Regions from separate parts of the Homo sapiens genome. Here all the other regions are linked to region 1. The links come from fine-mapping of genetic effects on plasma protein levels. Region 1 holds a variant in brackets. A gene starts in each other region. All regions are shown on their forward strands.

What was found. PIP is the chance, under the fine-mapping model, that this variant and not a neighbour inherited with it causes the effect. The UK Biobank Pharma Proteomics Project read protein levels with antibody pairs (Olink). The fine-mapping took linkage between variants from a reference panel, not from the people measured, so its PIPs are less certain.
Region 2: it holds the start of PAPPA, and the variant in region 1 is fine-mapped to the plasma level of the PAPPA protein (UK Biobank, PIP 0.98).
Region 3: it holds the start of TFRC, and the variant in region 1 is fine-mapped to the plasma level of the TFRC protein (UK Biobank, PIP 0.92).

Annotation. Positions count from the first base shown.
Region 1 is chr16:88,498,559-88,503,777 of GRCh38, forward strand. All of the region lies in intron 3 of ZFPM1 (zinc finger protein, FOG family member 1), which reads left to right. Among named protein-coding and RNA genes, the nearest start is that of ZFPM1-AS1, 30 kb to the right of the region's middle. The variant C/T (reference allele first, on the strand shown) is at 2,367.
Region 2 is chr9:116,151,166-116,156,384 of GRCh38, forward strand. It overlaps PAPPA (pappalysin 1), which reads left to right and starts at 2,626. Exons shown (of 22, transcript NM_002581.5): 1 at 2,626-3,422. The coding sequence starts at 3,008. RefSeq lists a silencer at 4,403-4,492.
Region 3 is chr3:196,079,407-196,084,625 of GRCh38, forward strand. It overlaps TFRC (transferrin receptor), which reads right to left and starts at 2,684. Exons shown (of 19, transcript NM_001128148.3): 1 at 2,637-2,684. RefSeq lists an enhancer at 936-1,435 and silencers at 2,317-2,616, 2,667-3,006.

The sequences.
Region 1 (5,219 bases):
AATCATGACGAGGTAGGAACCCCACATGTCCGAGGGGCAGGCAGAGCCGGCCTCGCTGAGCCGACGTTTGAGTTCCAAATGAACGAGGGGCGTCTGGAAACGGTGTCCCAGGCCGAGGGCGCAGTCCCGGAGCCGGGGGCACCCCTCTAATCTGGAGTGATCGCAGGGGTGAGGCAGCAGTCAGCTCAGAGCCTGAGGCCCCATCACATTGGGCCTGCGGCTGCAGAGGGTGGTTATCTTGGAAACTGAGTTCAGAGGTCGCAGGCTCTGGCTGGCCTGACCCTGGGTCGTTGGCGTGGACACCTTGGCTGCCCCTGGCCCTGAGCCTTCCCATGACACCCTTCCCTCCCCTCTCCCAAGCACTGGCCCCAGGCCTGGGTGGGGGCTGCACCCGGGTCCTGCCTGCACCACCAGACCCCAGGCCTGCCTCTCCACGCAAGGCCCTGTGGGCGGAGCCCCTGGACAGGGTTGAGCTTGGGGCCAGAGCCATCTGCAGCCCCCGAGGCCGGCTCCCCTTCCTTCATCCCCAGCTCCCCAACGGCCCCCGTGGCTCCCCCATGACCAGGCTGCCGGCACCCTGGGGCCTGGCTGACCTCCCGCACCCACCCCAGCCCTGGCCATACAGAAGCCGCCTCCTGAACCTGGCCCTGACTTCAGCCTCCACCCCGGGAAAGTCACCTGGGCCTCGAAGTCCCGAAATCGCAGGCAGAGCCGGCACTCACTCACTCCCTTGTACTTCCATTTATTGAGCACAAGCTATGTGCCAGCCCTGTGATAGACAGGGGGATGCAGCGTGAGGAAAACAGACCTCCTCCAGAGCAGCCGCGGAGGAGAAGAGAGCAGTCGTGGGGGCCGCGCAGCGGGTGGGAGACGCAGGCCAGGGCAGAGGAAGCCGGGTACAGAGGCCTGGGGTGGGGCCGGCCCAGCTGACTTTGGGAGCAGCGAAGGGGCCAGGGGGCAGGCAGGACCGCGCACGTGGACAGGGCGGAGCCTGGTGCCTAGCAGGCTGGACACGGAGCAGGTCTGCGTGCAGTGTGGGGGACCCCACCTGGGTGGCCCCTGAATCCCGCTGGCTGGGTGGAGGACGGCTCAGGGGCAGACAGAGGGAGATCTGAGAAAGGGCTTGGCTGAAGTGGGCAGTGTCCCCATTCACAGATGGGAAACTGAGGCCAGGAGAGGTGAGGTAGCCACCCCACCCCCATGCTGGGGAGGGGCCGAGTGGGCACAGAGCCCACAGGCCTGCCTCCCAGGGAAGGGCCCAGGCCCACCCATCCAGCCTCTCCGGGTCCAGCCCCCAAGTCCCGTGGGCTCCCCGGCCCCTCCTCGGCCCCATGCCAGCAGAGGGTGAGCGGACAGTGGATGCCCCATGAGGAGCGCAGCCGGAGCCCTGGGTCTCCAGCCATCCTGGTGGTTGGGGGGCGGGGGCCGGGCCTGGCTGCCTGCCGTGCTGCCCTCTGGCCTCACCACCTTCCGGGAGAGGCTATCTGTGGCCAGGGCAGCCTATCTCGGCCGCAGGCGCTAATCAAGCTGGCTTCCTCCTCCGCCCTCCCACCCGGCTTCCTGCCCCGGCCATCCCCCACCACCAGCCCCCACCCAGGCCCCGCCGTTGCCCTACCGGCCCCTCCCAGACATCTCGGGGGCAGGCCCACCAGAGTCACCTGGGCGAGCCCCTGGAGCCCCGGCTACTGCCCAGAAGCTTCCCTCCTTGCCCCTCCTGGGCCTGCCGCATGGCCGGGGACACAGCCAGCTCCCCCCATGAGCTGGTGGCCTCGTCAGGAAGACGGCCACAGGGCGCTCTTGGGAGGACCCTTGGGACAGTGGGCAGGCGCTGGGCAAGCCACAAGCGTGTCGCTGGCAGCTGCTGCCCCAGCTGCCCTTGTTCCCACCACTACACCCGTGTCACCACCAGCGTGGGCACCGTGACTGTCACTAGCACAGAAACAGCGCTATTAGAGAGTGCTGCTGCTGGCCTGGCCGCTGTCACCTTGCTGGTGCTGTCGCTGTCACTCTGGGTCATTCTGTCACCTTGCTAGGACTGTTGCTGCCAGCAGTGCTGTTGCCGTTACTGGCACCAACCCTCCCGCTGGCACAACGGCAGACTCAGCTTCCAGGTGTCACCTCTCTCACCGCAGACCTGGGGCCTGTTGTGCCCTGTTCTGGGCTCAGGGTCCTCATCTGTGAGACGTGGACAGGACAGTTCAGGCTCCCTGGGGCTGCTGGGGCAGGGCAGGGCCCACAGTTTCTCTTTCCCAGCAAGTCTGCGTGGTCAGCTCGGATCTTGGCCACCCTGGGCTGAGCCAGGTCCTGGGCACAGTGCTGGGTCCCTAGACGGCACCTCGGTGTCCTCACCTGACCGACAGGTACAG[C/T]GGGCCCTCCCTGTGGGGGTGCAGCCTTGGCTGGGGATATGTCAGGGTCTCTAAGGCTGGCCCCTCCCCACACTGGCCTGACTTCTCCACCTCCTCCTGCCCAGGAGGGAAACTGAGACACCACTGCTGGTGATGGAGGTAGCGGTCATGGATGCGGGGGCCCTCCCGCAGGTGCTGGTGATGATGGAGATAGCAGACATGGATGCGGGGGCCATCCCGCAGGTGCTGGTGATGATGGAGATAGCAGACATGGGTGCGGGGGCCCTCCCGCAGGTGCTGGTGATGATGGAGATAGCGGGTGTGGGTGCATGGGCTCTCCCGCAGGTACTGGTGATGATGGAGATAGTGGGCCTGGGTGCGGGGGCCCTCCCGCAGGTGCTGGTGATGATGGAGATAGCAGACATGGGTGCGGGGCCCTCCCGCAGGTGCTGGTGATGATGGAGATAGCAGACATGGGTGCGGGGCCCTCCCGCAGGTGCTGGTGATGATGGAGATAGCAGACATGGATGCGGGGGCCATCCCGCAGGTGCTGGTGATGATAGAGATAGCAGACATGGGTGCGTGGGCCCTCCCGCAGGTGCTGGTGATGATAGAGATAGCAGACATGGGTGCGTGGGCCATCCCGCAGGTGCTGGTGATGATGGAGATAGCGGGTGTGGGTGCATGGGCTCTCCCGCAGGTACTGGTGATGATGGAGATAGTGGGCCTGGGTGCGTGGGCCATCGCGCAGGTGCTGGTGATGATAGAGATAGCGGGTGTGGGTGCAGGGCCTCTCCCGCAGGTGCTCTTGATGATGGAGGTAACGGGTGTGGGTGCCGGGCCCTCCCGCTGGTGCTGATGATAATGGAGATAGCGGGCATGGGTGCAGGGCCCTGCCGCTGGTGCTGGTGATGGAGGTAGTGGGCGTGGGTGCAGGGCCCTCCTGCCACTGCTGTTTGCCATGGGATCAACCCCAGCCCGCGAGGGGGCTCCTGGGCCGATGAGCAAACTGAGGCCCAGTGAGTTCACGTGGTTCATCCGAGGTGGAGACCAGGCCGGTGAGCCCTGACCTCCTGACCCCAGCCCTGCAAACGCCCCAACCCATGGTTTAACACTCCTAGTAGCTCCTCCACCCCCGACGCGGCTCCACCCGCCCCCCCCCATTTATTTATTTATTTATTTATTTATTTATTTATTTATTTATTTATCTCTCCTCCTTCTCTGCGTGTAACTTTTTATTTCCTCACTGCGCTTTTCCATTACAGCGGCCGTGGACGCAGCTGATAAGATCGGTCCCCGGAGATGGGACAAAGGGGCCGCCATCGGCTCGAGGGCTGGTCATATCCTGCCCGAAAGGGCCGAGCAGGGCCTGAGATGCGGCAAGATGCTATCTCGGGTTTATTGCGTCTCGTGAGGGTGCCTCCCACCCCGGCCCCCCGCCCTCTCCCGCCCTGCCCAGGGGCCCGGGCGCCGGGCACTCAGGACCCACCTCTGCCCCATAGGCCTGACGCCTCTGTGCTTGCCCCTCCATGTCCCCCAACCCCGTCCCTGTGCCCTGTGGGCCGCCCGGGGCCATGGACAGGGTCTTTGGCCCCAGGTTCCCATCTGGATCCACCCTGGAGTCACTGTAGGTCTTGGGCTTGTCCCCAGCCTCCCAGAGCCCCACTGTCCCTTCCCGTCCAGTGCTGCTGGAGGCAGTGGCCTTGGTGACCCCCCCTAGCCGAGGGTCCCCACCTCGCAGGTCGGAGCCACCCGGTCCGGGCTGCCCCAGCGCCAGCAGCTGCTGCTTCCCTTGACTCAGCAGTTGGCTCCTGGGAATTTATCCCAGAAAAATCATCCCGGCATGGGCGGGCTCAGGTCAGCATGTCAAAGATGGCAAGCCATTTATTTTTTTAAATTTTTGCTGTCTTGCCACGTTTCTTCCAGAGAAGGATGTTCTAAGGGCAGCAGAGGCCACGTGGATGCCCGTTTGTGGGTCTCTGCACACACGGTGGCCGGACGGCAGATCCGGGGCTGCCCTCAGAGCGCTCGCCACCCCCACCCGCCTTTAGCTGTCGTTCCTCCAACCCCACCAGCCATGAAGGCCCCTCAGGGCTGGAAGGCTGTGTGCGGTCTCTTCGGCAGGTGGGAGGTGGCAGGGGCGCTGCTCCGCGGGGCAGGGTGGGTGGATGAGCACGGCGCCCCTGGGACAGGAACCCCCACTGTAGCACAGTGCTTGATTCAGGGGCCAGTGGGGACCCCCGTGGGTCCTGAGCAGCGGCACAGGGGAGGGAGCTGTGTCTGGGGGGCCACGGTTCCTGAGTGGAGGGATCTGTGTCTGGGGAGGGGCCCACGGTTCCTGAGTGGAGGGATCTGTGTCTGGGGGGCCCACGGTTCCTGAGTGGAGGGATCTGTGTCTGGGGAGGGGCCCACGGTTCCTGAGTGGAGGGATCTGTGTCTGGGGGGCCCACGGTTCCTGAGTGGAGGGATCTGTGTCTGGGGGGCCACGGTTCCTGAGTGCAGGGATCTGTGTCTGGGGGGCCCACGGTTCCGGAGTGGAGGGATCTGTGTCTGGGGGGCCCACGGTTCCTGAGTGGAGGGATCTGTGTCTGGGGAGGGGCCGGCCTGTTCTGCCTCCAGGGCTCCTCCTGCTTCCTGGTCTTTCCCACCCTCTGCCTGGCCTGCATCTGACTCACAGCCAGCTGCCTCTCTGTGGAGCCAGGTCCTCTCTGACCTCGGTCTTCTCATCTGTGTTGGGGTGATCGGTGCCATGGCAGCACCCTCTGTGGCTTCCCATAAAATCACACGTGACTTTTAGAAGAGGAGACACATTCACAGTTCACGGAAGCACCTTCTGCCTCCGGGACTCACATGGGGCTGGGCTCACCCCGGGGC
Region 2 (5,219 bases), not on the chromosome of region 1:
AGGGTGGGTCATGAACCAAGAATTAAATTTCATCTAATTTTATGCACTCAATTAAAAACAAGCAAATACATACATACATATATGCATAAAGAGTTAGAATGGCTTCCAAGACAGATGGAAACAAATAGTAAATGTATGTTCAATGAATGGATGAGTGAAATGTCTTGCCAAATGATCCCAGTGCATTTGAGGACGGAGATCAAGGAGTTCAAGGACCCATAAGACATGAACTTCGTTGTCCCTTCGTTTTCCTGCCTCCTACAGGAGAGAAATAACTTGGCCTCCTCAATTCTTGTTTGTCTTTAAGAACCTGAGGAGCACTTTGTCTTTGACAACAACAATAGAACAAATGGTATTCGTATATCATTTTTATTGTTTACAAAAGATTATACCCCAGAGCATATCTTGTCCTCAAAATAAATTTGCCAAGTAGATATTCCCATTTTAAAGGTAAGGAAGTGGAAGGGAAGAGAAATGAAGTGTCTTACTCAAGGCCAGTGAACTGATATGTGTTGGAGGGAGTAGGAAATGAGAAGTAAAAATCTTGTGCTCCCACTGCTGGTCTGAGAATTGAATAATTCCCAGTTGTCTAGGAATATTCAAAATTATTGTATACAATGACTTAAAATCCCCCTGGAAGACATGCAGTTTCTAAATGCCTAATTGCCACAACTGAAGTAAATCAGTAGTCATGGTCCAACCTCTATTGGAGAGGAAGGGGGATTTTGAATGATACAATTTATGTTGTTCAACATAGCTCTCTTTTTATCCAATGGCAACCTTTTACAGATGACTTGGAGTTGCAAAAAGTCAAAGATTTGCTTAGGCAAATTCTTTATTCATGACATTGTGCACCCAAGATTTTCTTTCCTCCAGCCAGTCTCTGGAAACACATTTAGGGTATTGTGCTATTTTCATTTTATGACTACAGAAACAGAGTTCAAACGTTCTTAGTCTAAGACTATTCAGCAACTTCTTTCTAAACTAGGAAGGTATGAATCTGAGATCTCCCATTTTCAGAAAGCTTCCATAATCTTTGCATATATCGCATTCCAGCTTTCATAGAGGGGATGTCTGAGTCATTTGCTCATCCGACAAATCGTCATACTTTTGCCAACAAACATTCTTCCTTGGTTTTCTCTCTTCCTGAAGCGTGTAGCAATGTTCCTAGCTCTCAAGAAAGATCTGGAGCAGCTCGGAAGATAAGAGCAATTGAAGAAGAAAGTTACAATTTAGTGGAGTTAATTTTATCGCAGACTTTCAGCACGCTATTCACATGCAAACTTCACACAGAATATTTTTATCACTACCTTATTGGAATAGATTGGTAATTAATAGCTTGTAATCCACCATTGCTAACATGTTTTGACTTATTAAACACTTGGACAAAATAAAAGAAGATCTGTTTTGCCATAAGGGGGAGCTTTTGAGTTCTATAAAGAGGGGGAAAAAAGAAGAAAAAAATATATTACATGTATGTCCCAGTTCAAAAACAGACCTACAAAGCAGCAAATGGTCAGATCCTTACCTGTGACTTTAACAATTTCAGAGGACCTGAATTGCTTAAGTTGAAAACATTAGGCAAATTAATATTTTTCTCTCATTTTCTTCTTATAAAATTAAAATAATTTCTAATGACCAACAGAGTATTTTAAAGAGTATTCGGGGAAATTCAGAGACCCAGTTGTACTAGGACTACAGCTTCTGAAAGGCAGATGTCCTGGACAGTGCCTTTCTTCTATTTTCTTCTGATGATTCCATAAGAACTTTGGAAACATTTGGGTTAGCTGAAGCCAGCCTTATCTGGGGGCTCAGAAAAGAGGGGAATGGTTCATCATCGTACAACTTTAAGGAAATTCTGAGAGGGAAAAGGACAGGGAAAAGAAGAGGGAAAGAGGTAAAGGGAGAGGAAGCGGGAAGAAGAGTAAGGGAGAGAGTGAGAAAAAGAGAAAGAGAGGGAGAGGGAGGGAGGGAGAGACAGAGAGAGAGAATTAAAAAAAAAAATCTAAGAATCAAGTTTCAAGACTCTTTATGTGCTACAGAAAAGGATGAGGTTTACCAGCAAAGTGCAAAGGGGATCCTAAGAGAAGAGACAGATTTTTCTCCTGCCATCAGAAATAATAATAATAAGTGGGGGGAGTGAGGGAGGGAAAAAAAGCAAGCAAAACAAAACAAAAACAGGAATGTGTGTTTTGAGCAGGAATGAGAGCTGGGAGGACCGTAAGGGGGTGTGTACAGAATTTCATTAAATTGTTACTTTAAGATTGTCTCCTTAAAAAAAAAAAAAAAAAAAGAGAGAGAGAGAGAGAGAGAAAAGGAGGGGGTGGTGGAGAAGCGGGAGCGAAGGAAAGGAGGCAAAAGGCAAAGTGAAGGAAAGCTGGATAGCTCGGCCTCTCCAAACTGATTGATTAGTCATGATCCCCGCAGTTTTAACAGGGACTCATTCAATTGGGAAGGTGGAGCGCTGGGGAGCAGATTAGCATACGCTTGTTTACTCATCTTCTGAGGGATTTTTTCCCCCTCTTTCCTTTCATTTTGAGAAGAAGGAGGGAGGGGAGGGGGGACTTGGGGGGGGAGAAGGGGGCTGTGGCTTGTGTTATAAAGGACGCAAAAAATAAATAAATTAGAGCATCTTTTGGGGGGAGGGAATTCAGCGGATCAGTCTTAAGAGGAGCTTTTTTTTGGAGCGAGAAATCATATAAAATAAAATGAAATAAAACAAGGAGGAAGGCAACCAGCTGTTAGGGGAAAAATAAGGCAGATAAAGGAGCGGGGAGAGAAATTAATTGCCAACCAGGAGGAGTTGGGCTGTATTTTTCAAAGGTGGGGAGAGTGGAGCACACACCTTGAGGAGGAAAGCGAGAAAGAAAAGAAAAAAGCAAGTGGAAAGGGGGGCTCGCCCAAGAAGGGTGAAGAAGCGAAGAAAGTCGAGGCGCCGAGGCTCCCAAAGCTGGCAGCTCCGGGTGGCGGTGCAGGGGCGAAGGGGGGGCGGGGGGAACCGTCGGACATGCGGCTCTGGAGTTGGGTGCTGCACCTGGGGCTGCTGAGCGCCGCGCTGGGCTGCGGGCTGGCCGAGCGTCCCCGCCGGGCCCGGAGAGACCCGCGGGCCGGCCGACCCCCGCGCCCCGCCGCCGGCCCGGCCACCTGCGCCACCCGGGCGGCCCGCGGCCGCCGCGCCTCGCCGCCGCCGCCGCCGCCGCCGGGCGGTGCCTGGGAAGCCGTGCGCGTCCCCCGGCGGCGGCAGCAGCGGGAGGCGAGGGGCGCCACCGAGGAGCCGAGCCCGCCGAGCCGGGCGCTCTATTTCAGCGGGCGAGGCGAGCAGCTGCGCCTCCGGGCCGACCTCGAGCTGCCCCGGGACGCGTTCACGCTGCAAGTGTGGCTGCGAGCGGAGGGGGGCCAGAGGTCTCCGGCAGTGATCACAGGTAGGTGAGGGCGCCTCGGCGGGCGCTGCACCGTCCCTGCGGCCCCAGAGGCTCGCGGGTGTCTGGGCGCGGGTGGCGGGCGGGTCGGGGGCTTGCGGGCGTGTCTGTGCGAGAGCTGCCCCGCGAGCGGCGCAGAGACATCCGGGCGAGCTGAGAGCCTCACTTTGCTCCATCGGTGGAATGGGCACACTCGGAAGGCGTAGCTGCTCCATCCCTGGGAGGAACCTGGGGAGCCCTCCTGGCGGCCCCGCGGACCCTCGGCCAGTGAGGGCTGGTTCCCGGAGCCTAGGGCACGTAACCCGTGCTCCGAATGGTCAGATGCACTCTCTCCTTTTGGGATGAAAGGGAGGATGACCCAATTGAGATGCATGTGAAAGGAGACTTGGGGACCGTTGATTTCTTTGACGTTTTAATGGAGGTAACTCCCCTTCATTAGGCCCCATTCCCCTGAAAGCCGGCAAGGGCAAGGTTGTTGTAATGGCCAGGACTTAGAAGTCCTCGAAGTGCCCCAAAGTTGCTCACTGATTGAAGCCTGCCTCTGGGACTCACCCTCACCCCCTCCACGCCATCCCATGTCCTAGCTTTTAAAGCCCATTGCCTGTCACTCGGGGCTGGGACGAGACCTTCCTAACGCATACCCCGCCAGCGTTCCCCAGACGCGGCTGCGAAACGGGGCGCTTTTCTCATATGGGACTTTATGAGCCCGTAATGAATTTGAGTTCTCCCTCCTCAACCTCCCTCTCTCTCCCCTTCGCTGTTCCACAGCAAAGCCTATAGTGAAATCGGACACTTTGCGAGGATTGCAAACCTTAGAAATGCTCCAGCATCCATTTTCCCCCCTCTAAATGAATCTGTGGAAATGCCTTTAATAAAACTGGGGAGCGGAGGTGGGGGCGGCGCTGGAAGAGAGGAGGAAAGTTTTGCCTTTTCTGTCTGGGAGATTCCCTTTCTGCACAAACAATCTTGCCATGTCCTGGGACGTCTTAAAGTGAGAGTAGGGGTTCCCCCTTCACTGCAGCCAGGAAACGTGTGAAGGCGTTTTGCGATCCCACCCCCTCACACACACACTTTCTTAGAAGGGAAAGCTGTGAGCTCTCCGGGCAGTTCTGCTTCTTCCTGTCTTTCCATGGCTTGGACTTTCACAGATGTAGCACTGACTATCCAGTTGACATGAAGACCCCTTTAGGAGACCCACACTCTGCTGCTATCCCAAGAATACGTCTCCCGAAGCCCCCGCTTTCCAGCTATCAAAGGAGAGCGATACAGTGATTCCCCCCAACAACCCACAACTGACGTCATCGCATGCTATTTTTCCTTTTTTTTTTTCCTCCGGGAAGAAGAAGGAGACTGAACTCATTCACTTTTAACTCGCAAGCCCTATTTGCCCAGAGGAGGGTCTAATTTGGAACAGAGGAAACGTTATCCATAATAATAATGACGATGGTGATAATTTAGAGCTGTAGTATGTTGACTTCTCTTTCCAAACATGTGAAAAAGCAAAGAGACTGCTGCTTGGAGGTGATTTTTTTTTTTTTTTAATCTGTAGGTCTGGTTTTTCCTAGTCTTTACCTAGTACCAGTGATTTGGAAGGCATTCCCTGGAGAGAGGAGAGCACAGGGTTATGCAGGCATCATCAGTGAAAGGGTAGTGAATGCATTTTAACTATGTAAGTGTGTCTACATAAATACGTGTGTGTGTGTGTATATATATATATACATGTATATATATGTGTGTATATATATATGTGTATATATATATATGTATATATATATATATAACACCTGGGATTCCACAGGA
Region 3 (5,219 bases), not on the chromosome of region 1:
TTTGAGACTAGCCTGACCAAACATGGAGAAATCCCATCTCTACCAAAAAAATACAAAATTAGCCGGGCATGGTGGCGCATGCCTGTAATCCCAGCTACTGGGGAGGCTGAGGCAGGAGAATCACTTGAACCTGGGGGAGGTGGAGGTTGCAGGGAGCCGAGATCACACCATTGCACTACAGCCTGGGCAACAAGCGTGAAACTCTGTCAAAAATAAATAAATAAATAATAATCTAAGCTACTTGTGTTATCTTTGGTGTTCTCAATGGTGACTGAAAACAACAATTCAATTTCTCACATTAATAATGAAGCTCAGGTAGGCAAAACGTAGCCCCACGTTTTGAACCATGAAATGGAACACATTCACTGCCTAACAACTTCACTACCCTCTATTTTCTCCAAAATCAGACAGAATCCAGCCCCTGTTTTTACCCACCAACATTCTTCTCTGTTCCTTGAGGTCCTCCTCATTTCTTCCAGGCTCAGCTCAAGGCTTCATCTCTATGAAGCCTTCTCTGACTGACTTCCCTATCCTGTAATAACTGGTATTGAACTACCTGATAATGAGTAAAAATATTGTCTTTAACAGTACTGGGGCATGCCTGATGCATGAGATTCCAAATGATATGAAAAATATAATGAAAACATTGGACCAGGAATCTTTTCCCGTCCCCATCACTCTTCTGGTTTAGTAGGGAGTTTTTTTGTTGTTGTTTTTGAGATGGCATCTCGCTGTCGCGCAGGCTGGAGTGCAGTAGCACGATCTCAGCTCACTACAACCTCTGCCTCCCAGGTTAAAGCGACTCTCGAGCCTCAGCCTCCTGAGTGGCTGGGATTACAGGTGTGCACCACCATGCCCAGCTAATTTTTGTATTTTTCGTAGAGACGGGGTTTCACCATGTTGGCCAGGCTAGTCTCGAACTCCTCACCACAAGTGATCCACCTGCCTCGGCCTCCCAAAGTGCTGGAATTACAGACGTGAGCCACCATGCCCGGCTAATTTTTGTGTTTTTAGTAGAGACAGGATTTCACCATGTTAGTCAGACTGGACTCGAACTCCTGACCTTAGGTGATCCGCCTGCCTTGGCCTCCCAAAGTGCTGGGATTACAGGCGGGAGCCAATGCGCCCAGCCGAGGGTCATTTTTAACTAGCATTGTGATCGATTCAGGTTTAGCTGGGAATCTTGCTCCATGACATTTAAATACATTATCAGAGGCAAGTAACTGCCTCGCCTTAGGGCGGAGTTAGCCAAACTGCTGTCTATCTAACAATCTTCAACACAGGCTAGGTTTACAGCCACCATTACTTGATAAGAACATCCAAAGGAAATTGAAGGATGCTATGCTATATATAACCTTGCAAAATCGATGACAAAAATTATCTTAACTCTGAGTTTTCTTGAGAAGCATATTGTAACCCAAAATTCAGGGCCGGGGGGCGGGGGGAACCAGCAGGGTCCACAAGTACTCTAGACAGCCTAACCTTAATTTTCACAGTAAGCTTAGCATATAAGCATGGGGTAGCCAAATACAATTTCCTACTTTAATCCTCTTATCAACGGGGAAGAAAATGGAAAAAGCTGCAGAATCCAGTCCCCCGGGTAAGTGAGGTCTCTACAAGCAGTAAGCAGAGGGAAAGCGTTATCCGAAAAGAGCCGAATCAGAATGTATTTTCTTACCCACCCTCCCAACCTTAAAAGAACTGTCCAGCAGAATGTGACACAATCGGCCTCTCCGGCGCCCATCAATCCAGCACAGCCCTCTGACCACACCGCTAATCTCCAAGTATCTTTCACAAATAAGTCACTCCTATGGCTCCCGTCTTGTAGTGAGAACTGCTAGCAATATTCTTAATGTGAACACCTGCGGCGTTCAGTCGGATTCTGCCTTGAGAAAACAGAATCCACACACAAGGCGAACAGGCAGAGCATGGCAAGATCAGGTTGTACCAGAGCCGAAGGGTAAGTTTACAGAAACCCGTATCTAATTAATGCCTGTAACACGCTAGTAACCGAATCGGGGACAGCTTTGTCCCTTTCCGCAGTGAGAACGGGGCCCGCCCGGAGCCCGGGGAACCGAAGGTTTAGGAGCCCAAGGTCACCCACGAATCCCAGCCGTTCCCTGGGGCGACTTCCTGGAGCAGCCACGTGTTCCCCCGGCGCCGCACGCCGCGCAGCTGCACCTTGGCTGCGCCCGCGCTCCCGGACCCGCAGCCCGGAGCCGGCGCACTAGGGCCTGCGGCCTTCAAGGGCGAGGACCCGAAGTCCCCGGGGCTGAGAGCGACAGTGGGGGTACACCTGGTCTCGTCATTCGTCGCTCTGTGACCGAGGAGGCGGGCAAGAAGGCAGAGAGAAGGGAAGGGACGAGAGGCGAAGGGACGAGAGGCGCAGGGACGCCTCTGCGCACAGCCGCCGACCCCGTGTACCTGCAGCCGCTCGAGGCGCCGCCACAGCCCCTTCCCCACAGGCTCGCGGCCCCGCTCCATCCCGGCCGCCCCGCCTGGGGCCGCGACCGCTTTCCCGCTCCCCGTGCGGCTCCCTATGGCTGCTGGACAGCACCGGAGCGGCCGCTCCAGCCAGCCCCGCAGGATGAAGGGAGGACACGAGGGTCGGTGTAGTTCTAGAAGCCCGCACTCACACTAGCGCGTCCTCCGTCCCGAGCCGCCACCCGATATCCCGACGCTCTGAGGGGATGGCGGCCCCTAACCGGCGGTTTATAGCCTGGCCCCGCCCCCGGCCCCCAGGGGGGCTGTGCGTCACTTCCTGAGGCACGTACGCTCGCGAGGTGCTCTGACAGATCGCCCGGGGGGCGGGGATGCGCGCGCAGCGGGCGGGGCCCTATGCGGAGGGCGCTGCGGGCGAGGCGAAGGCCAAGGGAAAAGGCGCCAAGGCAGCAGGTGCCCCGAGGAGCCGCGCGATGGGCGCACTGGCCTCTGCCTCGGCGCCTTCCTCCACCCTGGTAGCCTGGCAGCCTCCGCCTGACCTTGACCAACCTCCAGTCCCTGCAGTGCTAGGTCCAATCTGTTGGCGTTGACGCTTAAATGTTGGATATTGCACTGCGGCAGTGCCTTGAAATGTACGTGCAGGATGGAATGTTAGGTAACTATTAAAGCCACTCTTGTGAAGATGTATTTTGCAGCCTCAGAAATACAAAAAGGAAAAGAAAAGCAAAATGCAAATTTTTATTCAGAATGTATACAAGCTGCACTTTAACCAAGACTAGCGGAGTGCTTTGCGTAATGTTTAATGCATGAGGGAATAAAAGGGAAAATAGAAACAAGTGACTTAATAGGGTGATAGGATTGTAGATTAACTTTCGTTTTCATTGCCATCGCTGTTATTGGATTGTGCAATGAATAACAAATAAATAAAATTCAATTCTTGTCACTGTTTAAACTCTTTCCAAACAATCACACCCTCTCCCTCCCTCTGGTCAGTAACCAGCAGGCCAGGGAGGTAGTAGCTACAATGCAAGAAAGCAACCCATACCTTAAAAAGCATTGCACATAAACTGACCTTCAGGCCCGTAGGGACACAGAACAGCCCTTTAAGAAGCAAATCCGTTTCTGGGCCTTGGGCTTTTACTCTTCCCTTTATTTCTTCTGCTCTAAGATAGAGAAAGTACTTGGGATTCTCACCGCCTTTCTCTTTACTCCCATTCTCTAAAATCTCTCTCCCCAAAGAGAAGTGTTTAAAAGTCATATGAGTTGCCAGGCGCGGTGGCTCACGCCTGCAATCCTAACACTTTGGGAGGCCGAGGTGAGCGGATCACGAGGTCTGGAGTTCGAGACCAGCCTGACCAATATGGTGAAACCCCATCTCTACTAAAAAAATTTCAAAAAAAATTAGCCAGGCATAGTGGCACGCGCCTGTAATCCCAGCTACTCAGGAGGCTGAGGCAGAAGAATCGCTTGAACCCAAGAGGCGGAGGTTGCAGTGAGCCAAGATCGCGCCATTGCACTCCAACCTGGGCGACAGAGCAAGATTCCATCTCAAAAAAAAAAAAAAGTCATATGAGCAGGAGCATTGCTGCACCTTTAATGATCTAATCAGGAAAAGGTTAAGGATGCACATCCACAGAGGGCCTACCTTAACATTCAGACACCAGGCCTGCTCCCCTGTGGTGTTCCTTCTTTATTTCTTTAATTATTAATTTTATTTATTTTTATTATTTTTACTTTTAAGACAGTGTCTTGCTCTGTCACCCTGGCTGGAGTACAGTGGCATGATCTCGGGCTCACTGCAACCTCTGCCTCCGGATTCAAGCGATTCTCCTGCCTCAGCCTCCCAAGTAGCTGGGACTACAGGTGTGTGCCACCATGCCAGGCTAATTTTTGTATTTTGAGGAGTGACGGGATTTTATCATGTTGGCCAGGCTTGTCTCGAATTCCTGACCTCAGGTGATCTGCCCACCTTGGCCTCCTAAAATGTTGGGATAACAGGCATGAGCCACCATGCCCAGCCTATTTATTTTTTATTTTTAATTTGACGCAGGGTTTGCTATGTAGCCCAGACTAGTCTTGAACTCCTGGGCTCAAACAATCCTCCTGCCTCCGGTCTCCCAAAGTGCTGGGATTATAGGCATGAGCTAACATGCCTGGCTTTCTGCCTTTCCTTGACTGAAGTATCTTTTAAAAAGAAACAAACAATGCTGGTATTTGCAGGTGAAAATCTTATAGCCTCATGGAGGACATAGGTTTAGGTGGCCAGATGCGATGGCTAATCCCTGTAATCCCAACACTTTGGGAGACTGAGGCAGGTGGATCTTCTGAGGTCAGGAGTTCAAGACCAGCCTGGCCAGCATGATAAAACCCCATCACAACTAAAAATACAAAATTTAGTCTGGCGTGGTGGCGCACACCTGTAGTCCCAGCTACTCCAGAGGCTGAGGCAGGAGAATCGTTTGAACCCGGGAGGGGGGTGGCTGCAGTGAGCTGAGATCACACCACTGCCCTTCAGCCTGGGCAGCAGAGCAAGACTCTGTCTCAAAAAAAAAAAAAAAAAAGAAAGAAAGAAAGAAAAGAAAAGAAAGAAAAATATGTTTAGGAGACATTTAGAGGCCAGGACCATTTGGACATGAAAATTCAAATCTCAAAAATTTATATTCACTAAAATAAAACCATAAACGTGACACTAAAGAGGCTATCAATTATATTTTTATTTTTATGCTGTTATTAGTATTAATAGACACTGCAATTAAAGTCCACTTATTAACACTTTT